4 linked regions of the Homo sapiens genome follow. The protein of the gene in region 3 interacts with the protein of the main gene of each other region in a pairwise test. Each region holds a gene or a part of one and is shown on either strand. Other genes may lie near its edges. The genes, in order: CCDC50, UBE2E2, ARRDC3 and RABGEF1.

Region 1 (7,113 bases), on a different chromosome or scaffold from region 3:
ACACTTAGTTGACTTGATTCTTTTCACCTACATATGAACTCAATCATTTCCCTTTGTCTCCCAGTTTAAGAGATTTACCAAGGTATAAATACTACCATAGGTGTATGTGTGTGTGTTTTTTCAAAAGGTCTGTCCAAATGATGAATATTTTTGACTTCCTTAAAAACTAAGTAAGCAAGCATTAGATTTCAACCTAGGAAAGAAGATTTTTAAATATCCCCTTACCCTAATGTCAGCTGCTACCCACGACCTCTATTGAAATGTTCACGACAAAAGGTCACAGGGTGCCCCATCCCCTCCTAAACAGCAATGGAAACGGGCACACACTCACTGCACTATTCTTCTTAATCTCTATTGGAATCTACCCCATGATACCAAATTGAATATAAATTGTAACTGCATATATATCTATCAAAAGTTTAAATTAAAAAGTAGAGGAGACAGATACAGGGATTTTTTTGAATGGGGTTCAAAAATCTGCATCAGAATATTAAACTAATTACTACTACTAACCCTTCTCAAATGAAGTTGGAGTTTCAATATTACCACAGTCTCAATGTTTGCACATGTTTTACCCTATCAGGGGCACAAGCTTCATTCTCTTTAATTAGGATAAAGACACTGTTAGGGAGTAACTGGGCCATAATTAAGAGTTATATTAGGGAAGGATACACTTTATTAGACTTGAATACTTCTCAGATCAAAAACTTCACCACCATTAGTAGGACATTCCTAGTATAATACATCACTTCCTTTGATGATCTTGGAACTAGAAAAGTCAGATGTTTACAAAGACAGTGATCTCATCGATTCCTGACCACCTTCAAAATTAATATTTAATTGTAACTTAATGAAAGAGCCACACTGAATTTTCTTACCAATTTACCAGATTACATAAAAGAGATTGCCAAACACCGTATTACGCAAAATGAAAGCTAATTTAAATGTATTAGACTCTAGAGTGTGGAAATGGAAAAATCTTGCATTTTTATATGGAAGGTGTTTGTGGAACTCCTTGAGAAATAATATGTTAGAATACATCATTCATGTCTTGGTACGAAATCAGAAGACCTAAGGGTAATATAAATGTATATGAAGAGTTTTATGTTTTTTCACTCACATGAATAGGGGATTGGATAAAATCATAGCACCATATGATTAATACTATACATACCAGGTTTTGTTTGAACTCCAATTCTCATTCTACTCACCATGCACTACACACTGCACAAGGATCACTCTTTCTCTAGAGACAAACCCAACACATACCCACACAAAAAACCCTCATATCCAAAAGTAAAGGATAACCAGACAATCTCTAAGATAAGAACTCTCAAAAGTATGGATCCGCCTTTCCTATCGCTCAGCCTCCTTAGTCTTGACAGCAGAGTGAAAACTGTTTTCTACAGGTGAAAGCCCTAAGTCTTCATCAAAGCCATACCAGGGACGGAAAGGTAGAAAAGTATTAACGCTAAAATCTCACGCCTAAGCTTTAACACCCTTCCGGAACAGTAAGACAGAACTAGGCCCATCAGAAATTCTACATAAAATCAGTGACCACTAGTCACTAGTCTCCTAGTGCTTGAAACTCTGAGAAAGCAATCAAGCAGTCCCTCATTTTCCTGAGATTTTTGGGCTGGCCTGAGCACACACAAGACCAACGGAGTCAAATTAAGTTGGCAATAAAACAAGCGGTTCCAAGAAAGCAAAAACTATTTTCAATTCCACATCTCCAAGACGCCTCAGGCTACAGTATTCAATCGATACAAATGACATTCACAACAGAAGCCGATTTTGCAAAGCCCTTGGAACTTAGGGGTCTGCGTCAGCACTCTGGAACGTCTATGCTTCCTAGGACCAAAGAATAAACAAAGATAACTCAAGGCATAAGGCGATCCAGCACCTAAGATCTCAGCAAAAAAAAGCTAGGTCCTGAGGCAGCTAGTGGAAAAACAAGAGAAGGGAAGTCAAAAGGCTACTTGCTGTCAGCTAAAGCCAGGTCAGTACTAATCTCTACTTTCCTGGACATTGGTACAAAAAGCAATGACAAGGCCATCAGTCCCCTGTTCCCCTCGCTCACTATTGTGTGTGTGTGTGTGTGTGTGTGTGTGTGTGTTTTGTTTGTAAGAAAATGCTTATAGTGGCTTCCCGCCCGCGCAGAACACAGCCAAGACTAAACTTTTAAACCTTGAGGAAGGTGGGAAAGTCAGCCAGCCAGACGCCGGCCTAGGAAAAGTAGGGAGAGAAGGAGGGAAAGAGTCATGTTTCAAAACAAAGGCTCCACACGGAACTGAATGTCAACCCCTCTCCACTTCCCAGCCTTCAAGCCAGCCAGGCTGGGCCTCGATTTTTTAGAAGCGGAGTAAGTCAGATTCACCCGGCTCTCAGCGTCCACTGAGGCTTTGCGATGCACGAGAACACGGGCACAGCCACCTACTTGCTGGGGCTGCTGCTAGCCCCCCCCCCCCCCAACCACCCCCTTGAGAAAAAACGGGCTTGGAACGTCGGAGACTTGCCCAACGTCCCACACTAGAACCTGAATTCAATTCCTTTCACGTCCGGGCAAGGCCAACGCAGGGCGGGCACCGGGCGAGGGCCGCGGGAGCCGAAATGGCAACGCCCCTGACCTGAGAGAACCTCGGGCTGGGAGAGGGGAGGGTCCCGCGCGCTCTCCCTCCGGGGCCCTTACCTTCCTTGACTCCAGGCAGCTTGGACTGGTCGATGCTGACTTCAGCCATACCGGGCCAGGGTCCCGGTTGCCCCTTTAACGCGGGCTTCCCGGTCACCGCCGGCGCCGAGCGGGGCCCCGAGCGCAGCAGCAGCGCCGGACGCGGCGCAAAGTCCGGCCGGCAGGGCTCGCAGGCCGGAGAACGGAGCGGGTCGGGCGGGCAGGGGCTGGTGACCAAAGCAGCGGGAGACGGTCCCCGAGGCACCAAGCTGGCGGCCCAGCTGCCCCGCCGCGGCCACCTGCTCCGCGTCCCCGGCCCCAATCGATACCAAATATCCGGAGCCCGGAAATGGACCGGGGCCGTCCAGTACGGAGGGAGAGAGGAGACAGAAAGGCGGGCGGGCCGGCTGGGGGAGGGGGAGCTGCAGGTCTGTAACCGCAATTGCGAGTGGCTGGCGAGCGAAGATCAGCGCCCGCTGCCGCCTCGCTGTTGTCTCCTTTGTGCTCAGTGACGCGCCGCCTGAGGCTGGGGCCCCGCTGTGCTCCCGCCCCCGGGCCCTGCCCCCCTCCTACGGGAGGGTCGCGTCTTTAGGTGGGGGCCTTGTATCCTAAAGGCCTCAACAAAAAGGCCACACGGGTCACCTAAAACATAGTCTTTCCCGTGAGCGGTGTAGTCAGCATTCTGTGGTCTGGTTCTGGGATTGAGATTAACACAGGATGTTTACTGCATGCTTGCCTCTCTCTCATACACTCTTTTTGCACCCGGAATTAGAGGAGAGATGGTAGATGGCCATAAAAACCCCAAATACAACGTACAGAATGAAGAGCAGCTGATAAAATTCTGGGCCAGTTTGGAGTAGAGTGTGTACACAATCAGCTGGGAGAACTGAGTCATTCATTCATCAAAATCGCATGAATGTGTCTACCAAGTGTGATGTTAGGTACTGTGGGTGATAACGAGGCGTCAGACTTATCTCTGTTATAGCGCTGCACACATTGGATTGTAATTGTGACATTTCTATCTCTCTAAAATAGACAACCTCTCCTGTTTCATCTCCTGGCAACAGAATGCATCCTCCTTTTGGGAAACTGCCTCTTTCCCCACTCCTCAGAGGTGAGCTTCTCTCCCAAACGTGTGCCATGTCTGAACCTCGAGACTACCCCATCACTCTTCCCCCTTCCTCCACCGACATGGGTTCATCGAAGGGTGGCTGGGTGACCAAGACAGGTCAAACAGAATACTTTCCTGGGTACATAAAGAGTTACATATTCTGTTTCTTGTGGAAAAGATCTGCCTCTAGGAGATGATGAGGCCAAACTGAAGACAGAAGCAAAGAGAAGAGAAAGGGAGATGAAGAGGGCATGTTCTGATGTTACCACAGTAGCAAAGCAGGATATCCCCAGAGCAGCTGGCATTTCAGCAACTCCTGGATTCTGGGATCTACAACCCGCAAACTCTCAACTTATCCTCAGTTTTGCTTAAGCTAGTAATAGTTGATTTTCTGTCACTCACAGCTCAGAGTCCCAGTATGAGAGGCCACGTAGGGGAGGTTTTATTTGAACTTGACATTGAAAAGTAGGTGGATTTTAGGCTAGCAAAAATTTAGAAGACTTTCAAGGCCAGAGGGTAGCAAAGTATAGCCCACAGGCCAAATCTACGCCACTGAATTTGAATGACTGTTTTTTATATGTTCAAATAATTACATTTCAAATCACTACATAAATAGGACATAATATTTTCGACCTTGCCTCTTAAGCCTCAAAGTCTAAAATATGCTTTACAGGAAAAGTTTACCCACCCCAGTGCTAGGCAGAGATAACACTCAGCAGGTTAAATGTGGGAATAAGAAGGAAGTGGTATTAGAAAGGTAGATTTATGGGAATTTTTTAATTGTCCTGTAATCTAGTAATTTTTTTTAACTTCCTGTGGTCTAGAGAATATTTATAACAGCAGTATTTTCTGTTTCCCTCCCCAAATCTATCGTTTCTACTTCTCTACCAAGCCGTGCCTTTGGATGCCTACAGATAAATCACTAGGCCCCTTTGACCTGTGGCTTCCTGTTGTGATTGACCAATGGGAAGCACTGGCAGAAAATCAAAAGAAGGGAGGAGAGAAATATCAGAGTATTCTTCTTTCCTTTAACCCAAAATTTTGGCCACAGTCCTGTCCCTCTATGACTACAGGGCCTGTGTAGAGGCCTCTTTTCCATGGCCTCAGCTCTCATGGGTCTCTAATAAAACAATTTGTTTCCAGTGTCCCTTCAGGCCTAGAGTGTGATGGCTTCCCCTAGTTCCTTTTGGCTCACTGCAACTTCTGCCTCCCAGGTTCCAGTGATTCTCGTGCCTCAGCCTCCCGAGTAGCTGGGATTACAGGTGTGCACCACAACGCCTGGCTAATCTTTTGTATTTTTAGTAGAGGCAGGGTTTTGGCATGTTGGCCAGGCTGGTCTGGAACTCCTGGCCTCAAGTGATCCGCCCACCTCGGCCTCCCAAAGTGCTGGGATTACAGGCACGAGCCACCACGCCCGGCCTCCCCTAGTTCTCTTAACCCAGTTAATACCTCTGAAATTGTCTCTTCATTACATTCTTTTCAGTAAAATCACTTACAGTGCACCTCCTGTTTCCTACCTAGACTGTGACTGTTACAGTAAGATATGCCAAAAGTAAGATATGCTTAAAATATGATGTGCTTACAGTAAGATATGCATAAAAATATCCACATTTCTGGCCTAGAGAAGAAATGGAAACATATATAATAGCCACAACTATTGTTTAGAGAATCGGCTGCTTTCAGCAGAAAAAGTAATGAAAACCAGGAGCCCTTTTCAGGTACTAGAGCAGATGACCTGGAAATCCACCCCATAGTTGGGCTTTCCTTCTCCTACTCCACACCTGTTCTGTATAGGTCCCCAAGCTGAGCAAACAATTAGAGCTCAGCATTACAGAGTAGGCAACTTCTAGCAAAGGACTGACAGTAACACGGGGAAGAGCTAGTATCTTTTGAGTATTTATAGGGAATGAACATATGGTGAATTTCTGTAACAAGTTTACATCTTTTGGTGTCCTGAAATGTCCATTTTGCAATAAAAGAGAAAGCATAAGGCTTCTCAGGATGGATACAGATCCCTAATTTGGGGCAGATGCCAAACAAGTAATTCAGCATCAAATCACAACTTGAATGCCATAGAGAGAAATAAGGATTTTATTTATAAGGCAATATGGAGGCATCAATTGATTTTTTTTTCTAGGTGGATATTACATGATACATTTTCTACTTTTATAAAGTGAATTTGGTAACAATAAAATGCTTGGATTGGAGTAGGGAGACTTTGGTCATAAGAAATGAAAACTCCAGTTTGAAAACTACCAAATTCCACAAAAGCATCCCCCAGTTAGAGCTTACCTTACTAGAAGGTAAGCTCTGTGAGGGCAGGGGTTTATCTGTTTGATTCCCTAATATCCGCGTATCTAGAAAAGTGCTTGGCACATAATAGGCACTCAATAAATATTTGTTGCATAAATAAATAAATATAGTTATCCAATTTTATTATCAGTAAGAATCACAAATTAAAAGTAAGTTAAAAAAACAATATAGGCAAATGAATAAATTACACTGGACCTTGGCAAAACAGGAAAGGGGACCCACAGAACTATACTTCTGGAAAGAATTATCTGTCTCCTTGGCCCCCAGTGCTTCCTAGCTCATCAGCATAATATACCTAAGAGAACAGTTCCAAAAATGAGGATGCAATTAGAACTGTTATTCACTTTCACCAAGAAGACTGTATGAATATTCTAAGGTTGCCATAACAAAATACCACAGACTGAATGGCTTAAATAACAGAAATTATTATATATGTTTTTCACAGTTCTGGAGGCTAGAAGTCCAAGAGCAAGGTGTCAGAACATTTGGTTTCTTCTGAAATCCCTCTTTTTAGTTTGCAGATTGGATTAGGGCTAACCCAAATGTCTTCCTTAAAGACCCTGTCTGCAGTGCAGTCCCTCTGAATTACTGGAGGCTAGGGCTTCAACATGTGAATCTTAGGGACAGATAATTCAGCCCATAGTAGAGACTATTAGGACAATAATCCAACCGTACAGTTTAGGCCTCTTTACTCCAGGCCTTGAAGCATTTTTGTCTGGACTCTCATAACATATGTAAGTTCCCCAACCCTATTCATGCTCTCAACTTTCCTCAGTTGCTCAAGTCCCCTCACCCTATGGAATTCACTATCAGTTACTCACAAAATTCCCCATATCTCCTTTGTAACTATTCCCTTTCCCTTCTTTTCCTACTGGAACTCAGGGGTCACCTGGGGACATTGCTCTTCCAAGAGCCCTCTAAATTAGAGGCTGTTTCTTCTAACATACCCTAGACCCCATTGGACCTGGAGGTGCCATGGTTTTTATCTTATTGCCTTTTTTAGAACATATGTCTTTCCTAT
Region 2 (7,027 bases), on a different chromosome or scaffold from region 3:
AGAATTCTGCCAAGCTACTGGTTTAGCCAGAGAAAGAGAATTCATTGAAGGAAAATACAGAGTAGGGAGTTTATCTAGAGAGACAGTACACTCTGAAAAGATGAGGCAGGGCGAGCTGCTGAAAGAGAGTGAGCCAGCAGCACCCCGAGAGTGGTGGGTTTTTATGATTTCAGATTTTTTCTTGAAGTTCCTGCCTCTTTCTTAAGTCTCCGCCTTTTTACTTTGTTTAGTTTTCTGCATCTGCCTTAAGTCCCTGCCTTTTCCCTCACCTAGTTCCCGCCCCAAGGTTGTGGGACCCTCCCTTACTATTGGTGTGCACGCGTGAACCCGATGTTGGACACAAATTGCTTCTGCGTATCTCTTAGGAATTTTCTCCTTTGCCCTCTTCCCTTTAGCATGCATCTAGCTACATTCTGGCAGGTTAACTGGCAGAGTGAGCAATCACTGGGGTCTTAAGGGGGATTCCTTTCTGCCTAGGTATTTCCCCTCCTGTCTGTTCATATCTAGCACGCCTGTTTGGGGTGATCCCTGGGGCATGAGATTTTCCAGACTCCTTTTCTCAGGGCAGCCCTTCTCCTCCTCATGTCTGTTTATCTGCCTATTCTACCACATCTATGCCGTGGAATACTACTCATCAGTAAGAAAGGAACAAATTATTGACACGTGCAACAGCTTGGATGGATCTTAAGGGAATTGTGCAGAGTGAAAAGAACCAATTTCAATTGGTTACCTACTATACGATTCCATTTATATAGCGTTCTTGAAATGACAAAGTTGTGGAGATGAGGACAGAGTTGTAGTTGCCAGGAATTGAAGTAAAGGGAGAAGGCAACTATGGCTATCGCAGGGTACCATGAAGAATGTTTGTGATAGAGTTGTTTGTGTGTTGACTGGTGGTATTCACACAAATCTATACATGTGATAAAATTACATAGAACTAAATATACTTAATATGCATGAGTGCACATAAAAATGAAACTGGAAAAGGTCAGTGGACTGTATTAATGTCAGTTTCCTGCAGTATACTGTAGTTATACAGGATGTTTTCATTGGGGAAAATTGAGTGAAAAATACATGGGATCTCTTTATTTCTTACAACTGTACATGAATCTACAATTATCCCAGAATTATAAATTTTTAACGAAAGAACAGAGGCATTGATGCTGAGAGACAAACCGTAGGCTTTTGGATCAGCACAATTGTGTTCAAATTCTGGCTTCCACTTACCACTTGTGGGATCTTGAGCCAGTTCTTTAACCTCCCTTTGCCTTAGTTTCATCATTTTTCAAGTGGTTGCCAATAATATTATTTTCCCTATTGAGTTGTTTTGAGGGTTAATTATCAATATTATGTAAGCCACTCATTGGTTAAATTGGGATCGTAAAAATATTTTATCTTTTCATTTAGCACTTAAAGGGATAGGCACTCTGCCTTCTCCAGAGAAATTTTAATATCACGAGATAGTCTCTGTTTCATTAACTTAGGCTAGTGTCTTTATTTCTTCTTTCATGGAGTTTACTCTGTTGTTCTTTTACTACCTTCCTGAGTTGGACACTTAACTCATTAAATATCTGTCTTCCTTCCTAATGTATGTGTTTGAAACTGTAGATTTCTCTTTTACAACTGTTTTAGCTGAGTCACAAAATTTTGATATTGGCAACCCAATATTTTCATTGTCATTCAGCAATAATAGTAACTGATTTTTTTCTTTGATCCAAGAATTATTTGAAAATGAGTTTTTCAGTTTCCAAACATATGATAGGGGGATCTTTTATATGTAGATTCTGACTTTACATTATGGTCTTAATAATGTCAATTCTTTGAAATATGTAAAGCTTCTTTTGTGGCTTAGCATGGGATCAGTTTTTACAAATGTTTCTTAAATGTTCCTTAATCATTAAGTGTAGGATTGTGTCTTCATTCACTCCCTTGATTTTGTTTATCCAATTGTTCAGATCTCCAATATCCTTACTAATCTTTAGTCTGGTTGACCTATCAGTTACTGTGGTGAAAATGTCCCTCTTTGATTATAGCTATGTCATTTTCTCCTTATAATTTTGCACATTTTTACTTTGTATACTTTTGGCTATATTGTTAGATACAGCACATTCAGAATTGTTACTGTTTTCTTGATGAGTTGTTTATTTTATCAGTAACGTTCTTTGTTTCTAACAATGCTTTTTCCCTTAAACATATTTTGATCTGATAATATAGTCATTTAAGCTGTTTTTGTTAGCTAGTGTTTACACAGTATATGTATCTAGGATTTAGAATTCTCAGGAAAAACATTTCTCTTCTCATTCTAGAGCCCACGCTTTCTTTGGTAAGTTTCTTTGCTATCTCTGTCATAAGGCATATCTTTTCAAGTCCATGCATTTACTGAAAGACTAGCCATTCGAGTTTCCTAATTGATATAAGGGCGCTCAATTCTAAATTCTTGCAACATACAGGCCTAAGATTTCATCTTCTTTTTCCATGAGGGCATCAAAACCCAAACCTCCACTTTATTAAGACTGAGTACCATCTTTTACTCCCTTCCCTCTTCCCAAAACCCCACCCATGGCAGGTGCAGTCTCAGCTTGTTGCGCTTACTATAATTTTTGGTTTTTAATTCTGGGCTCTGGGAATTCCCCTTACAGATTTTGCTATGCATTTTAAAGAATGTTGGTTATATTTTCTTCAACATTTCTAGGCATTTAAGATGTGTATGTAGGTGTCATGGATTATCTGGTCTGGCATGATGCTAGAAGGGCAGTTCTCATTAGAAGTACTAATTTAACCTGAGAATGATGTCTCTTGTTCGACAACCACATAAGTCTCTAGATTTGCCCTTTCTGAGACTTCGCATCATGTAAATTACATAAATCTGGTGTTTGACTGGATGCTGGATGCCCTGGTGGAGTGGCAGCACCTGCAGAGATCTGCATGTGTGTTTTTCTTGGTTCAGAGCTATTTTGAACATAGGGTACCAAAAGACTGTCTTTAGAACCCTGAGATTTTTGTATATTTCAACTTAAAATTTAAGAACATTTATGAACATAATATTAATCAATAATATTCACATCTTATTGCCGTTTACATAACACTTTTATTAAACAGTTTTAGTAGTTATAAAACTGATTTGCACTTAATTATTTTCGTAGTTATAAAACTGATTTGCACTTAATTATTTTCAGTTGAAGTGTTTTACAAATGATATGGTCATGTTTCACAATTACATGTAAGCAGCATACAGTGGTGATCTAGCTATCACAGGGCAAAGGTAGGATGCACTAATATTACGTTTTAAAAATAAAATTTAAGAAGGAAAAGGTTTCTAAATTACAGCTAATTGTAACTAGTAATATAACTAAAATAGTAAATTGTAACTACTATAATTATACTAATATAGTTCTATGAACTGGGCATGTTATTTATATAAATGCCTTAGTTTATGTTTTAAAACTGTGTTATAGGCCGGGTATGTTGGCTTACACCTGTAATCCTAGCACTTTGGGAGGCCAAGGCAGGCGGATGACTTGAGGTCAGGAGTTCAAGACCAGCCTGGCCAACATGGCAAAACCCTGTCTCTACTAAAAATACAAAAATTAGCTGGGTGTGGTGGCGGGCACCTCTAATCCCAGCTACTTGGGAGGCTGAGGCAGGACAATCGCTTGAACCCGGGAGGTGGAGGTTGCAGTGAGCAAAGATCACGCCACTGCACTCCAGCCTGGGCAACAGAGCGAAACTCTATCTCAAAAAAAAAAAAAAAGAAAAAAAAACTGTTATAGAATAATATTTATTTTCTTTGTATTAGTACTCTCATGCTTTTTGGTGTTTGAATATTATAAATGTACAAAATCCTTAAAATAACTGGAATCTAACAAAAGTTTTCTTTGAAATTTTTTAGAAGTCAGAGTCAGTTTCTCCCCATGAACATTCCTGTAGTTGTATCAAAAGTAAATTCAGTCCCTAAAACATTTGTTAAATAACAGGACTCTTTATAAGAAGCAGAATGTCATGGTTTTGCTGTTGATGTTTATTTCTCTGTGCCCAAAATGACAAATTCTAAAATGATGATCTCTGTTGATTAATCTCATGTGCCCAAGAAAAAAATCAAGTGTATGTTAACCAATAGCCTGGGCTATTTTGTCTGATAAAATAGGCAATTTTATTAGACAAAAATTGTCTATAGATACTGTTAATAAACACTTTGTCTAACAAAATATAACTTTACATTTTCTTGTAGGTTACCTTCCGAACAAGAATCTATCACTGTAATATTAACAGCCAAGGTGTGATCTGTCTGGACATCTTAAAGGACAACTGGAGTCCGGCTTTAACTATTTCTAAAGTTCTCCTCTCCATCTGCTCACTTCTTACAGATTGCAACCCTGGTAAGAGACTTTAAATCTAGTATGAATTGGAGCTTGTCAAGATTTAAATGTCAGACCCTTAGTAACTTGTTTACTACTGCTACTACCACTACCACCACTGCTTCTACTACTATTATTGTTAAATTTTCATAGTATGTAACTATTTTCTTTTTAAATTGGGTCTTCTCATTAGTGTTTTTAAGACCTATCATTTGCCAAAAAGGAAAAAGTATAGTGTGGTAAAAAAAATAATGAAAAATCATTTTAGATGGGAAAGTACGTTTAAAGAATGAATTAAGTTATCCTGCCAAATAATAATAAAAATTCAAGTTGAATAGCTTAATCTTTAATTAGATGCCTACTAGAAGATGTTAATTTGAGGAATGTGGGCTATTAAAATCTGATAACAACCAGGCAGCACCATGCAGACGTGACCTTTTTGGCATCCTAGTAACTGTGCATCCTGACAAGCTATTATAACGGTCCTGAATGGTCTGTTCTAGGAAATACCCCAAAAGTAAACAAGGAAATACACCTCCCAAGAAAACGAAAAAGTCTATAGCCAGGCCTTTATGGCTTGCTGGTGTGCTTACCACTGAAAATTCTTAATTCCTGGGCCATGTCTTTACAAATTGGGTTTATTTTAGAAAATACAAAAATCCAAAGATAGCTATAGGGTTTTCATTGATGTTCTCAGTGGGAGAATTATTTTATGAGTAATTAATAGCTTAAATATTGCATGAGATTCCCTCTTCTACAATCATGAGTAAACTCTGTTCACTGGATACATGAAATTTTACACAAATGGAAATGACGAGTATCAGTGGGGTTGCTTAGGATCCTGGCTGTTTTATAAAACATCAAGAAATAACAGTCTTTCTACTTTTATATTTCTTTATTTTTCAGCAGTAAAATCTTTTTTAAAGTAGCAAATTAGTATTTTTTTTTTTTTTTTTTTTTTGAAACTGAGTCTCACTGTGTCACCCAGGCTGGAGTGCAGTGGCACGATCTTGGCTCCCGCAACCTCCGCCTCCTGGATTCAAGCGATTCTCCTATCTTAGCCCCCCAAGTAGCTGGGATTACAGCCGTGTGCCGCCAAGCCCAGCTTATTTTTGTACTTTTAGTAGAGACGGGGTTTCACCGTGTTGGCCAGCCAGGTCTCGAACTCCTGACCTTGTGATCCGCCCGCTTTGGCCCCCCAAAGTGCTGGGATTACAGGCATGAGCCACTGTACCCAGCCTGCCCAAAAAATAAAATTGTGCAGGATCATTATAAAATATTTTTTGAATTAATTCATACTTTACTACAGACAGTAAAGTCCAATAATGTTATACTAATTTAAAGTTAATTTTGTTCTTTCAGTCCTGTTGTTCCCATTTTAATCCCATTTGTCTGTGACTGTGTATAACCTTGTATAACCTCATTTGGAGGTAATGTTGCAAGAAGGCTTTTTTTTTTTTTTTTTTTTTGAGGTGATTTCGAAGCCTGGCCTGCTTTGCCTCCAAGTCAGCTGAAATGGAATCTGTTACCCTGAATAAGCCTGTATATGACAGCCTGTTCTCTCTACAGATATTCCTGCTTAAAGGAATAGATTCATTCCACCAAAGCCTTCTCTCAGCAATCAAAAAGACTTCTGTTCAGTGAACTAGTTTTTTTTTTTTGCTCCGTTTCAGAAAATTACAAATGCATTCTGCAAAAACTTAAAAATCACTCCTAACTAAAGCAGAACCACATAAGTAAAAGAAATAGATTTTGAAATAATGCTATTGATAGTAAGAACAAGCCTAAAAATAATGTTCCATAAAACCAAAGACAGCCTGCCTCATATGAGACTAGAAGAGAATTTGTAAAATACATGCTAACATTTAGTTTATCACACTTTTTAACACATAAAAATAAAGTTTCCTAATTGGTTTTTATGAATGTTGACACTTCTAGAATCTTAAATAGAGTTGTTTATTTTAAAGTAGTCAAATGTCCATTCTTTTGCTTAATGGACTTATTTCACACTGTTATCTGGTACACTTTCAATCTCTGTAGGTTTTTTTACCTACAGAGGTAGGAAAGATTAGGTTAGATTGAAGTTTATCTTAAATCTATCTTCAAATTATCACAAAAACAAGTTTGATAGAATAGGAATAAATAAGATTTTCCTACACTGAATCTGTAGAGCTATTTTAACCCGGAAATGCTGTCACCTCAAAAATAGGCCTTGTATAATGATACAAATTTAACTCACTTAAAAAATACTTTCTCACTCTTATCCATACATAAACTTATTTTCTAAATCTTTTTCATACTCTTTTTGTAATTTGCACTTGTCTCTTTAAAGAATTTTTGGTCCATTCCAACACAGATGTTCTTTAGGGTATGACTACCCATCCTTATCAGCATGATATTTGTAGACAGCAGATGTAGATTTGAAAACCAGTTTAATTGTTTATTAGTCATATCACATTGGATGGGTCACTTAACTTTCCACAGGCTTAGTTTTTGATATAAAATTGGGATTAGTACCAGCCCTGCCTAAATCACTGGATTCCTCTGAGGTTAAAATGAGATGGTATATGTGAAAGCCATTTATAAATGGTAATGTGTTGTTGATATTGTTACCCAGAGTATTTGGGACACCAAATGGGCCCACAATAGGTGACCGATAAACACCTACTCAG
Region 3 (7,027 bases):
GCCGCGGCTCGCTCGCCCCGCCCCCCGGCCAGCAGGCTAGGTTGCGCGGGCACGGGCGCGAGCGCCGCGCGACGTATGCCGTATGTATAGCGGGGCGCGCGGGCGGCAGCGGCGGCGGCGGCGGCGCGCGGGCAGGCCGGCTGGGATCTGCTCGCGCCGGTTTAGGCCGGTCCTCTCCTGCTCCGGTCTAGTTCTTGATTGACAGCCCGGCACTTGTTTACCACGGCGCGGCCGCCGCCGCTCGCTTCAATGAGACTGCTGAGCTGGCACAAAAAGGGAGCGAAGAGGGAAGAAAGGGAAAGGAAGGCGAACTTCGGGCGCCTTCGAGGGGAGCGAATTTAAATGGCCCCCAGCTCATCAGCTAGTTTTTGGTTCTGAAATCCGTTCAGGGGAATTTGCACAGGGGACGAGGAAAATTGTATGGAGACATAAGCGAATCACCATGATTTTTAAATGAAAGTATCGACGTATACATGCTTTTTTCCCCCTTTTTCTCGTTTAATATCAGGGAGGCATCACGTTTTTTGTGTATATCCAATACTTTGCTGAAGGAAAGTTAAATAATGTGCCAGTTTTTTCTACTCTGGGGGCTAATCGTAAAGGTTTCTACACCAAGAAAACTTTAAAAGATATTTCTGTAATTATTTAAAACGCTAAATAGGCACTTTAATGATCTAGAACCCCCTCCCATATTTTCGATTATATTTATTTTCATGCCACTTGAAAAAAAATAATTTCACCAAAAAAATTGGTTGTAAAATGAAAGGTCATCCCTTTTTTATAGAAACTGGAAACTATTAATAGTTAGACTTCATTTTTTTCAAGGATGTTGGAAAATATTGTTTCCTTATAAGCCGACACCACCTAAATGCGGTTCTTTGTAATTATCTAAGGTATAGTTTATGCAAGTTTTAGTCGTTGCTAGGACCAACTGAGTGTTGTGATCATTTTAGATCAATAAATAATTATTTTTAGTTCAATAAATAATTATTTTTAGTTATAAATCTGACATTAAAATCAATGTGTGGCTTTTTTTTTTTTTTTTTTTACTCCGTCTATTTGACAAGGTTTTCTAGTGGTTTTGGAGTATCTATTCTATTCACATCTGGTATTATTATTCCCTATAAACTGACATATTTTAAGAGGGTTGCATGAACAGTTTTTCTTTGATACATTATAGTCTTAATGTGATAAATTTAAGCAAACCGTTGGAGACAAAGGATAGCATTGTCTTACCATGATGTGAGACCCGAGCCTTTTGAGTATATATACTATTTTATAAACAGATGCTTTGCAGTTTGGGTCATTTTCCATTAGAAAAAATAAAAAGCCTGTGGGGTGTGAGTATTCATTATCCCCATTTTACAGATAAGGCAGCTGACGACAGGATTTTTATTTTGTCCAGAGGAAATGATGAAGTTAGAATTAGAACTCAGATCTCTCAGACTCCAAAGCTTGTTTTGTGGTCTTAATTGTTATGTAAGCATCTTTAAAGTTATGCCACCCTGCGGAGTATGTAAATGTTGAATAATAAATTCTTTGTTTTCTTTTTATGTTTGTTTTAGATGATGATAATTCCGAAGAAGGCTTCCACACTATTCATTCAGGAAGGCATGAATATGCATTCAGCTTCGAGCTTCCACAGACGTAAGTATTATAAATAATAGGCATTTTTATAGATACTTATGATCAGAGCATTATTTTAAAATTAAGTATTCTAAATTTAAACATTTTTAGTTGAAAAAAAAACCCTTTTCATTACTGAAACTTGCTAGAGGAAAACAATATATTAAACATAAGAAGCTATTTTTTAATCTAGCGTGGCAAAATTATAGAAAGCATACTCAATTTTCAGTATTCTTTCCTAAAGTTTATGAGGTTTTTAAAATAGGAATAGGGTTTCCTTTAACATGAGTGAATTGGAAGTTGCTAGTCGAATAATAACCACTTTATACTTAGTTTATTATCAATTATCATTATGAGAAAAGATAGACCCTATCAAGTCTTAGTAGCTTCAATTTATAAAAAATTCTATATTCTACTTTTTCTGCTAATACTAACCAATAGCAGTAAGTTTCGAAAATAAAAATAATTAGGAATATCCTAACTTTAGAAATGTTTTTCTTCTGATATGAACTTAATAGCTTCTGTACAAAGAACTATTGGGAAGGTCACACAAGAGATATGACCCAGGCTTAAAAGGAAACATGCATCAAGGATACATTAATATAAAACTTGGAATCTAGTAAGAAAGGAAAAAGGAAAGTGGTATATTCTTAAAGTAATGACAGATTGTTGGAAGAGATGATACAAACTTTTTAAAAAAAAATGCCTTTTAACAAATATTAAAACCTGCAAAATGGCACTTGTGGTGATTATTCTGGAGAATAAACAGATTACATAAGATTTTGTCAGGTGACAAATGTACATTAATTCTGCATTTGTTAATTCTAGTGCTTGAGATGTTATATATAGAGAGAGAAGTCATAAATGGTATTTTTTAGAAAATTCTATTTACTGTATTATTTGAGAATTTTATTTGGAATATAATGCCCTCATCTAATTTCTGAGAAAAATATTAAAGTCTGTTGATAGAATAAGGCCAATATGGGGCCTGAGTATTTTCAGCGTCATTTAATGTTAAAGTTCTATCCATAAACCAAAGTCATTTAACATAAATTTTGGATAACTATTAGCATACAGTTTAAGATTTTATTTCTCTGCTATACAAGTTAATGTGGGAGTCTAAAATGCAAAAAAAAAAAAAAATTATGAAAACACCAGTGTTTCTTATGCTAATCTAAGCTAGCACTCTTGTAAATAACTGAACATTGAGTATTTTACTAATGAAATTATGAAAAAGATACTGAACTTGCTAAAATAAAACCTTCCACAAGTAAAATCTGACAGAGTTAAAAAAAATTTTTTTTTATTCTCTTGACATAGATCAAGAGGACTATATCTTTTTCTTTTGAAGCCCGTAAAGTTAGAGAACAGCCAAACAAGAATTAGAACATGAGTAAACTGAGAGATACAAAAGTAGTTTTTCAGTAAACTTAGGAAATGTGAAATTTTTGAAACTATAATGACTATTCCAGGCCTTTTCTAGACCTTAGTTAGTTGCTATTAAAAGATGATAATTCCCGGCTAATGAGAAGTGGAGTACTATAGGGAATTTGGTCTGAATGTTTAACCAGTGTCTAGAATTTATCAGTAGAAATAGTTAAACCATTCTCAACTTTGTGTTTGAATTCTTGGCCTTTTCAAAAAATGCCCATTAAACTTTCATGATTTTGCCACCATCATTAAAAGTAGCCTCCTCTTAGTTTAAATGGATTGTATTCTTCTGGCTTTTTAAAGCAAAATTTTAAAGATATTTATTGTTTATTCTTAGTTGGAAATAGGAAGTTTTTTCCCCAGTGACTTATCCCTTTGGAAATTTTTTAAATTATATGTTTGATACCTCATTGGAACATAAACAATACAATATATTAACACTTCTATTCTGACCTACTGTGTAATTGTTAGAAAGAGGTATAAAATTAATATATTGACCTTTATATTCTGCACAGACCACTCGCTACCTCATTCGAAGGCCGACATGGCAGTGTGCGCTATTGGGTGAAAGCCGAATTGCACAGGCCTTGGCTACTACCAGTAAAATTAAAGAAGGAATTTACAGTCTTTGAGCATATAGATATCAACACTCCTTCATTACTGGTAAGAATTGACTGAATTATTTATTCTTTGTTTTTGGCATATAAATATTAAAGAATAATCAATCACCTAAACTATGCAGTTGTCATAATTTAAAAATACTGGTTTTCTTTTAAAATTTCATAAATATACATTTTCTTAAATACAGTCAAGAACACTGAAATTAATGAAAAATATGCTCATATTTTTGACATTGTAGTATACCTTTAAGTAAATATAAAACTAAGACCAGTATATGATATGAAGTATCTCTTACTCAGAGTATGACAGCCATAACAAAAAACAGATCTGGTCCTTGGATGATTTGAGTGGAAGAAGAGCAGTAGTATCTTTTATTATAATACAATATCACTTACTTGACAATATCATAATCTAAAATTTGTACTATACTTTGTTATTCCAATAGAGGGATAGTTGTCAAATAATGGGGAATCATTAGTTTCATTAAAAAACTCCTTTTTTAAAGAAATCTATTTTTAATTGCATTTGTCTGAAAATAATTCAAATTTGACTTAAAACTTTATTTGATTTAAACAAATGGTAACATCTTTAAAGCACATAAGAAATGGGCATTTTCCTTTTTTACATATTGATTTTTTAATAGTCTCAGAGAAAGATGTTAACATTTGGAATTATAATCAGATTGCTTTCTTTGCTGCCTTTTTAAGGCAGTTTAAATGGAATGTGGAAAGGGTTTTTTTTATTTGGTTGGTTTTTGATTACTATATTTGTAAATAGTGTGAGCTAAAAAACTATGTTTATGGGATAGGCTGTAAACCCTTTACCTTTTTTTTCTAATTGAATGGAAATTTATATGAAAATAAAAGTAATGGTATAATTCAAAACCATCGGTTAGTTAAAAAATAAGAAGTATGTCTGGATACAAAAAAAAAGCAAAACCAGTTGTAATTTTTAATTTTCCATAAATTTAGGGTTATATTTTAAAATATTCTGGTATTGATTGTACCAATCCATACACTGACCTTTTTCTCTTAATTTTTTTCTTACAGTCACCCCAAGCAGGCACAAAAGAAAAGACACTCTGTTGCTGGTTCTGTACCTCAGGCCCAATATCCTTAAGTGCCAAAATTGAAAGGAAGGGCTATACCCCAGGTATGTAAGAGGTAGATTCCCACAAAAAACTTTTCTTCACTTAGCTTTTGTGTTTAAATTTATAATATGACTACTAAATATAAACATAATATAGTATTCTTTTGTGAAATAACAAATTGTGCTTATCCATTTGTTTTTTTCACAAAGTAGAATGTAGTTTCCTTTTTCAAATAGCTACTGATTAGTTCATTTCTATGACTCAAGTTATTTGCAGTTCCTGGGACATCTTTTCATGTATGTTAGTTGCACTTTCTTACTTTAGCTTTAAGAATCTTGACTTCTTTTGTTGTTTTTTTCTAACAGTAGATATGTATATATTTTTCCCTCTCTAGGTGAATCAATTCAGATATTTGCTGAGATTGAGAACTGCTCTTCCCGAATGGTGGTGCCAAAGGCAGCCATTTACCAAACACAGGCCTTCTATGCCAAAGGGAAAATGAAGGAAGTAAAACAGCTTGTGGCTAACTTGCGTGGGGAATCCTTATCATCTGGAAAGACAGAGACGTGGAATGGCAAGTTGCTGAAAATTCCACCAGTTTCTCCCTCTATCCTCGACTGTAGTATAATCCGCGTGGAATATTCACTAATGGTATGTACACATTTAAGAGGTTTTTTCCTTTCTTTTTTCTTTTTTGAAACACCTGTCACCCAGGCTGGAATGCAGTGGCACAGTCTCAGCTCCGCTACAGCCTCTGCTTTCTGGGCTCCAGTGATCCTCCCACCTCAGCTCCCAAGTAGTTGGGACTACAGGTGTGCCTATAGCCATGCCTGGATAATTTTTGTATTTTTTGTAGTGATGGAGTTTGACCATGTCGCCCAGGTTGGTCTTGAACTCCTGGGCTCAAGTGATCCATCCACCATGGCCTCCCAAAATGTTGGAATTATAGGCATGAGCCACAGTGCCTGGCCCAAGAGGTTTTTGGTGTTTTTTTTTGTTTTGTTTTTAAGTCTTAAAGTTATGACATAGTTTTGTCTTACATCCAGGATTTGATTTTTTTAAATTCCATATATAGTGACATATAAAATACATAACTCTTTATATAGTTTGACTTACAATTATACCTTATATGTAAATGTACTATACAGAATTATACATAAAAGAGAAACTTTTCATGTATGTAAGTTTAAAAATGAAGTAAATGGGGGTTTCAAATAACATTAAAATTGGTTATGAGTTTTTGAAAAGGAAATCATACTTGGCATTCTAAACTTAATATTTCTTTGCAATGTTTAGGTATATGTGGATATTCCTGGAGCTATGGATTTATTTCTTAATTTGCCACTTGTCATCGGTACCATTCCTCTACATCCATTTGGTAGCAGAACCTCAAGTGTAAGCAGTCAGTGTAGCATGAATATGAACTGGCTCAGTTTATCACTTCCTGAAAGACCTGAAGGTAATTTGATAATACACGTCTAAGCTTAATCTCTTACTACTATTATCAAGAAAATTATTTTGCCTCTGATATTTTATGACCCTAGATGAACATAATCTTTTCCTAAAGAAAGTAGATGTGCCCCTAATATTCAGTTTTGATTATATGTCTTCATAGTTTTGATCACCAAACAATAATTATTTTACCTTGACGTTGCTTTTTAATACCTACTATTCTGTGTATTTTGACATGCATAAGAACATGCTGTTCGAATTGCGTGTATCTTTTTCCTTCAGCACCACCCAGCTATGCAGAAGTGGTAACAGAGGAACAAAGGCGGAACAATCTTGCACCAGTGAGTGCTTGTGATGACTTTGAGAGAGCCCTTCAAGGACCACTGTTTGCATATATCCAGGAGTTTCGATTCTTGCCTCCACCTCTTTATTCAGAGGTAAGTACCTACTCCTTAAGTATGAAATGAACTGGCTATCTTGGGAAATAGCATTGCAGGCATTTTTTTTTCTTAATGTTATTAGATCTTGATTATCATGTTAACAGAACAAATAATTTAAAACAACAGATTAAAAGTTAATATTAGGTTCATCAATATTTACTAAGTTTGATGCAGAGGTAGGACTGTTCACTTATTAGGGAATTAAGATAATGATCTAACCTCATGTTGAATTACTAATTTTTTTTTCTCTTAAACTTTTATCTTGAGACACATTTTTTGAAGGAAGAATTTTGTATATCCAAGCATCAATAGGAAGAACTAGCATTTTGCAAACACTGATTAAATAGTAGAATTTATCTTATTCATG
Region 4 (7,027 bases), on a different chromosome or scaffold from region 3:
ATCTTATAAAGGGAGGAATGGTAATAAATGGCCACATTTATTCATTCAACCCATACTGAGCACTAACCCTGTGCCTGGCCTTGTTCTAGGCATGAGGATATGGTGGTGAACAGTGCCCTTGTGGAGCTAACATTTTAGTTGGGGAAATGGACAATAAGCAGATCTGTAACATAGTGTTAAGTCCTACAAGAATGGAAAGCAGGATGAGAGACAGTGGCAGGGGTGAGTTCTTTTACATTATGAAAGCAATACTGTACTGGAGCATAAACTGCAGTAGAAATAGAAAAGGAGTTTTCGGCATTGTATTGTAAAATTACAGGGGTTGTGCTGGGCTGGGGGAGGAGAATATGATCCCTTGACACCAGTAAGACAGGCCTCTCGGGTCTCTAAAAGGAGCTCAGAGAGTTTCTAGTTGGAAGCGAGCACTACAGGTTGAGTATCCCTTATCCGAGAGCCTTGGGACCAGAAGTGTTTCAGATTTTGGGGTTTTCCCAGATTTTGGAATATTTACACATATATAAGATAACTTGGGACTGGGACCCAAGTCCAAACACAGAATTCATTTGTTGAATATATGCCTTACATACATAGCCTGAAGGTAATTTTATACCACATTTTAAGCAGTTTTGTGCATGTAACAGTTTTGGCTGCTTTTTGACTCTAGCCCATCATCACATGAGGCCAGGTGTGGAATTTCCCACTTGTGGTGTCATGTCGACACTGACAAATTTGGGATTTTTGAGCATTTCAGATTTTTTATTTTTGGGTTAGGAATGCTCAAATCTGTAGTAATAATCACAAGAATGAATATAGTTTCTTCTAAGTTAAGTGCTAAAATTTGGTGCAAATGAAAGGTGTAAAACCATGTGTAAACTACCTAAAAAGATTGAATGGATAAGCTTTTGCATAAAATACTTGAAGTAGAAGGATAGATTTGAGCACTGCAGTGTGTGCATGTATATGGGTAACTAGTTGACAGTAACAAGGGCTGCAGTCAAGGTGATCACAAAGTGCCATGAGTGCTTGGCCATTTTTACTGAGGGAATGAGGTGACTGCTCCTGACCCCAAGTGTCCTGCCATCCTTTTAGAGTTAAGCCAGATGGTCAGACTGCTGTGGGCTTCCACAGGATGTATCGGCCCTTGGCGTGTGAGGTCAGTGGCCTGTGTAGATGAAGTCTGTGACAGCCCGTCCTGGGGGTTTGTTCTCGGCCTTATTCATGTTCTTCTACTGTGACATCCTTATGAGAACCGTTGGGAGAAATTTTTGATTTTGGTGTCAGAATTTCACCCGAATAATTTGTTTGCTTTCATCTTTTGAACCCTGAATTACATAACTGTTTTCATCCTAGTGATGGTTGCTAAAAAATTTAGTTAGAGACAGATGTATGGGCTGACTCTTGACTAATTTAGACATCTTCCAGGAAAACATTTCTGTCTTGTCATCTGTGGCTCTGCTTTAGGTCTCTCTCCATGTTTAATTTTTTTTTTTTTTTTTTTTTTTTTACTTATTATTGTTAAAAAAATTTTTTAATTTCTTTCTTTCTCTTTCTTTCCTTTCTCTCCTTTCTCTCCCCTTTCTTTCTTTCCTCTTCTCTTTTCTTTTCTTTCTTGAGATGGGGTCTCACTATGTTGCCCAGGCTGGCCTCAAACTCCTAGGCTCAATCGATCCTCTAGCCTCAACCTCCCAGAGCACTGGGATTACAGTTATTTGTTATTCTTTTTATTTTCTAGTCTCTTGTGCTGAACTGCATTTATCTTTTAAATAGCCTTTAAATATTCTTTGGCAGAAAGTGAGAAACAAATACATATATTACACCTATAAAATCAGTAAAACCAAATAAAAATTATCAAGCCCAATGTTGTAAGGGCCATAGGGAAGTAAGTGCATACACGTGGTTAATGACAGTGTGCACTGAGTTTCTGAGGAGTGTGGCTAGCAATAGATACTTAGTGCTATAACATTGTTTATTCATATTAAGCGGTTAATGCCACTTTTGGAAATGTATGACAGAGAACCGAAAAGAAGATAGTCCTTACAAAATTATTTATACCTACAGTGCACAACAGTGAAAGAGGGGGAGCAACTCAAATGCACAGTGGTAGAGGAGAGTCGAAGAAGTCAGTTAATATAATGCAGTGTTATAAAGCCACCAGAAATGATTCAGTGGATTAGATAAATAGAAATGTACATAAAATATGTAAATTATCAAAACATGCATTAAATCTATTTAAGAATACGTAGATTTAGCAAAAAGAATGAGATGGTCATGGTGAGACCGCTAGGTGGGAAGGGGTCCCCGGAAAAACTCCAGCCAGCCTGCCCACCGGGGTGGAGTTTTGGGAAGTTTGCACCATTTGTAGCAGGGAGGAGCCTGGCCCCTCTTCTTTCTGTGTGGAGCCCAGGATTCTAGCTGCTGGCAGGAAGCACTCTAGCAGGGACTCTGGCCTTGTGAGTGTCTCGGATTCCCCCTTTTCTTCCTTTTCACCTAATAAAACCCTGTCTTACCCACCATTCAAACCGCCTGCGAGCCTAAATTTTTGTGGCTGTGAGACGGACAAGGATCCCGTCTTTAGCTGAACTAAGGAAAAGTCCGGCAACAATGGATATTGGAAATAATATTAATGGATAGGTTTTACTCTCCTGCAGGATTAATATAACCTGTGAGTACTTTTAGGCTTACTACCAGTACAAGGAATGGCTTTTGGAAAGTTCTTAGAATGTAGAGCTGTGCTTCTGCACTTTGTTCAGCTACAAGCAGCCTCTTTGTCTCTCTGTTTCAGGATCTAAGCATTGAAGAACAGTCAGAGTGTGCTCAGGATTTCTACCACAATGTGGCCGAAAGGATGCAAACTCGTGGGAAAGGTAACACTGTTAGCCATTGAGAGATTGCGGGTATTGCACAGGGATGACTGCTCAGTCTCTTAGCAATTTCTTTCTTTCTCTGATGGTCTGGCTGGTTTGTAGACTTCATCCTGTAACCTCATGGACATTCTGGGAACTGGTCTTATACTTAGCAGTGCCTTTGAACTGTACCATGCGTATCTTTCCAGGAGCAATTGGATAATTTATTGAGTAACATTTAATAACTCCATTGGGGCAGGGCTGGAGCTGACGAAAACATCTTAGGGCCTGGCTCAGTAGCTCATGCCTGTAATCCCAGCACTTTGGGAGGCTAAAGCAGGCGGATCACGTTAGGCCAGGAGTTCGAGACCAGCCTGGCCAACATGGTGAAACCCCGCCTCTATTAAAAATACAAAAAGTAGCCGGGTGTTGTGGTGCACCTCTTATCCCAGCTACTCGGGAGGCCGAGGCACAAGAATTGCTTGAACCCGGAAGGCGGAGGTTGCAGTGAGCTGAGACTGTGCCACTGCACTCCAGCCTGGGCAACAGATCGAGACTCTGTCTTCAAAAAAGAGAGAGAGAAAGAGAAAAACTTATTGGAAGGCTTTGCTAAATGAATTTTCCATCTTGGAATCACCATTTTGGTGAGTTATTGTATTAATAGTTTAAAAAAAAAAGAGCTTCAAGTTTTTAGGGATTCTTTATGGATTCAACCTTCACTGATACTAGACTTTAGGATATACTTAGCACATGTGTGTGTCAGAGAAATCTCCATTTGTATACCTCAGAGAGCTCTACGATGTTATGGTAAACCTCAGAAAAATGAAAGGATAAGTTTCATCAGCATTCATCAGTCTTGGGAGTTGCAAATGCCTTTGTAATGTAGGACAGGGAGTGACCTTGCTGAAGTCTCCCCATTTGGCAGGGTGTACACTGTTAGGTCCTGTCAGACAACTTCAGTTAGAACTGAGGTTGCTGTGGAAGGCAGCCCAACAGTTGGAAGAAGATTTTTTTGTTTGTTTGTTTGTTTGTTTTTGTCGAGACAGAATATCACTCTGTCGTCCAAGCTGGAGTACAGTGGTGTGACCTCGGCTCACTGCAACTCTGCCTCCCAGGTTCAAGTGATTCTCCTGTCTCAGCCCCCGAGTGGCTGGGATTACAGGTGCGTGCCACCACACCCAGCTAATTTTTGTATTTTTATTAGAGAGGAGATTTCACCATGTTGGCCAGGCTGGTCTTGAACTCCTGACCTCAGGCGATCCACCTGCCTCAGCCTCCCAAAGTGCTGGGAATACAGGAGTAGAGCCACCGCACCCAGCTGGTAAGTTTTTTTTTTAAGCGTATTTTTAAATATAACATTCTTATACTTTTGTTCTGAGTGTGTTTAATTTATTTCTAGTAAATTAGTTTTTTGCTGTGTAGACAGTGCTATGAAAATATACTCTTGGCCGGGCATTCTGGCTCACACCTATAAACCTAGTACTTTGGGAGGCTGAGGCAGGTAGATTGCTTGAGCCCAGGAGTTCGAGACCAGCCTGGGCAACATGGTAAAACCCCATCTCCACAGAAAAAACCTACAAAAATTATTCAGGCATGGTGGCGTGTGCCTGTGATCCCAGCTACTTGGGAGGCTGAGGTAGGAGAATGGCTCGAGCCCAGGAGGTGGAGGTTTCAGTGAGCCAAGGTCATGCTGCTGCACTCCAACCTGGGCGACAGAGCCAGACTCTTTGTTTGCAAAAAAAAAAAAAAAGAGAGAGAAAAAATATATATATCTTGATCTTTTCTCTGTCTGGTTATTTCAGTGCCTCCAGAAAGAGTCGAGAAGATAATGGATCAGATTGAAAAGTACATCATGACTCGTCTCTATAAATATGTATTCTGTCCAGAAACTACTGATGATGAGAAGAAAGATCTTGCCATTCAAAAGAGAATCAGGTAGTTGCTTATTTTGTTTTGCTTTGTAGTTACTACCTTCTAATGGAAGAACACACTGGGGGGAAAATAATGCACCTGTGTTTCAAACCTTAAGGGAAAGCAATAGCTCATGTTCCTGCTTCCTTAGAGTGGAAGCAGCTCTGTTGTGTAAGAAAGACGAGGAATGTGGTGACCTCACCTATCCATCTCCCTCAAGGCAGCTTTTGGTAAGAGTTGTGTTTGGTGTTTGAGATTGTTTTCAATCCCTGAAATCTCCAAGGAATAGGGGGACTGTGTTCTTGGTCCATTACCATCTCCTCAAGTGGGAAGCTGTGAATATCGGTATCAAGGCAGGGGATGTCGGCTGGGCCCGGTGGCTCATACCTGTAATCCCAGCACTTTGGGAGGATCACTTGAGGCCAGGAGTTCAAGAGTAGCCCAGGCAACGTGGTAAAACCCCGTCTCTACTAAAAATACAAAAATTAGCCAGGCATGGTGGCGCACGCCTGTGATCCCAGCTACTTGGGAGGCTAAGGCACGAGAATGGCTTGAATCCAGGTGGCAGAGGTTGCAGTGAGCTGAGATCATGCTACCACACTCCAGCCTGGGCAACAGAGCAAGACTCCTTCTCAAAAAAATAACAAGTCAGTAGATGTCCTCTTTCCTCATTCCTCCCAGGGGTGTGCATTTTTCAGCATTCCCTAGTCACATCTTTCACTGGCATTGGATTGATGACATTTCCCACAGCACCCAGTCTTCCAGGCTCACTGGGGTGAGCCCCAGCACTGTGTACTCCAGTTGCGGTGGACACTGAGGAAGAGACCACCCAAGTGTGGGAACAGGGCCAAGGCTGAGCTGATGAGGTGTTTTAAGGGGAGAAGGGACTCGGAGTCCCAGGTTCCAGACAAGGGGCTGGTACTTGCTAGATCTGTATTGGAAGTTTCATAGCTGAAGTGAGGAGTTGATACTGGGCAGGCTGAAGATGTGGAGCCCAAGGTCAGGAGCCAGAAGTAACTAGAGGGGCCCTGGACCAAGATGCAGAACAGAAGCAGTAACCAAGCAAGAGGGCAGGCCTGCTGCAGGGTAGTTGGAGTGCAGTTAGGGTGGGACCAGGAAACACACAGTGATTCAGGCATGGTGGTCCTGCCCGTGGCCTCCTATACAAGCTCCAGTGTGCCTCAGAAGTTGAGGGTTGAGGCCAGGTGTGGTGGCTCGCACCTGTAATCCCAGCACTTTGGGAGGCCAAGGCAGGCAGATCACCTGAGGTCAGGAGTTTGAGACCAGCCTGGCCAGCAGGGTGAAACCCTGTCTCGTAAAAGTACAGAAATTAGCTGGGCATGGAGGTGGGCGCCTGTAGTCCCGGCTGCTTGGGAGCCTGAGGCAGGAGAATTGCTTGAACCCAGGATGCAGAGGCTGCAGTGAGCCAAGATTGGCACTCCAGCCTGGGCAAGAGTGAGACTCCATCTCAAAAAAGAAAGAAGTTGAGGACTGAGTGTAAAAGGACATTAACGCAGTAGGCAGCGAGGACAGGCAGCAGCCAATTCTCAAATGGTCACTTTCAGATACTGAGTGCATTTCAGTCTTGGTAGCACTGCGTAATGTCATTTCAGTCAGCAAGATGGCCTTCCATTCTTGTGATAAATGCAGAAGTCTCATTTTAGGATCCTAGCTGCTTCATCACGTCATTAGAGCTCGTAGTACTTGCAGGGGTGATGTGTGTGGGCCTGGGATTGAGTGGTCAGTGATGCCTCAGGCTTTCCCTAAACTGAAGGAGGTGACAAGACAAATGGCCACAGTTTATCCTTGGAGCTCTTGTTTACTGTCTCTCTCTCTTTAGAGCCCTGCGCTGGGTTACGCCTCAGATGCTGTGTGTCCCTGTTAATGAAGACATCCCAGAAGTGTCTGATATGGTGGTGAAGGCGATCACAGGTCAGTGAAACCAAGAGCCTTTTTATTGGGATGTTTTCCCCTTAAAGTTAACATTTTACTGTAATATTCATCTATACATTTGTAAAATGCAGATTGTCGAAGGTACATTGGAATGTAGTAAAAGTGATTTGTAAGATTGTTTTATGAATTTGATGGCATTCAGAAGAGCAGGTTCTCTTTTACCCCTTTATTTTCAGGGATTATGGTCTCGTTTCTTGGGCATTAAACTAAACTAAGGTCAAATGCAGATAGAATAAATTTTTTTTCTTTTTTTTGTACTTCTTTTTTTATTTAGTTTTTATTCAGCTGACTGTTCCATGATAGAATAAATTTCTTAGGAT

What was found.
Region 1: the proteins of ARRDC3 (region 3) and CCDC50 interact in binary tests that used the Homo sapiens proteins (3 or more experiments, as listed by UniProt).
Region 2: the proteins of ARRDC3 (region 3) and UBE2E2 interact in binary tests that used the Homo sapiens proteins (3 or more experiments, as listed by UniProt).
Region 4: the proteins of ARRDC3 (region 3) and RABGEF1 interact in binary tests that used the Homo sapiens proteins (3 or more experiments, as listed by UniProt).

The regions. Positions count from the first base shown.
Region 1 is NC_000003.12:191,325,300-191,332,412, reverse strand, and holds the start of CCDC50 (coiled-coil domain-containing protein 50 long isoform), read right to left. Parts: upstream 3,020-7,113; 5' UTR 2,739-3,019; coding exon 2,690-2,738; intron 2,000-2,689; exon of another isoform or gene 1-1,999.
Region 2 is NC_000003.12:23,528,326-23,535,352, forward strand, and holds part of UBE2E2 (ubiquitin-conjugating enzyme E2 E2), read left to right. Parts: intron 1-4,228; coding exon 4,229-4,376; intron 4,377-5,827; coding exon of another isoform or gene 5,828-5,889; exon of another isoform or gene 5,890-7,027.
Region 3 is NC_000005.10:91,373,314-91,380,340, reverse strand, and holds part of ARRDC3 (arrestin domain-containing protein 3), read left to right. Parts: intron 1-243; exon of another isoform or gene 244-893; intron 894-1,565; coding exon 1,566-1,647; intron 1,648-3,572; coding exon 3,573-3,720; intron 3,721-4,727; coding exon 4,728-4,830; intron 4,831-5,162; coding exon 5,163-5,419; intron 5,420-6,064; coding exon 6,065-6,227; intron 6,228-6,464; exon of another isoform or gene 6,465-6,502; coding exon 6,503-6,657; intron 6,658-7,027. UniProt on the Homo sapiens protein: Adapter protein that plays a role in regulating cell-surface expression of adrenergic receptors and probably also other G protein-coupled receptors.
Region 4 is NC_000007.14:66,792,729-66,799,755, forward strand, and holds part of RABGEF1 (rab5 GDP/GTP exchange factor), read left to right. Parts: intron 1-2,782; coding exon 2,783-2,864; intron 2,865-3,889; exon of another isoform or gene 3,890-4,005; intron 4,006-4,047; coding exon of another isoform or gene 4,048-4,164; intron 4,165-4,645; coding exon 4,646-4,778; intron 4,779-6,594; coding exon 6,595-6,686; intron 6,687-7,027. UniProt on the Homo sapiens protein: Rab effector protein acting as linker between gamma-adaptin, RAB4A or RAB5A. Involved in endocytic membrane fusion and membrane trafficking of recycling endosomes. Stimulates nucleotide exchange on RAB5A. Can act as a ubiquitin ligase.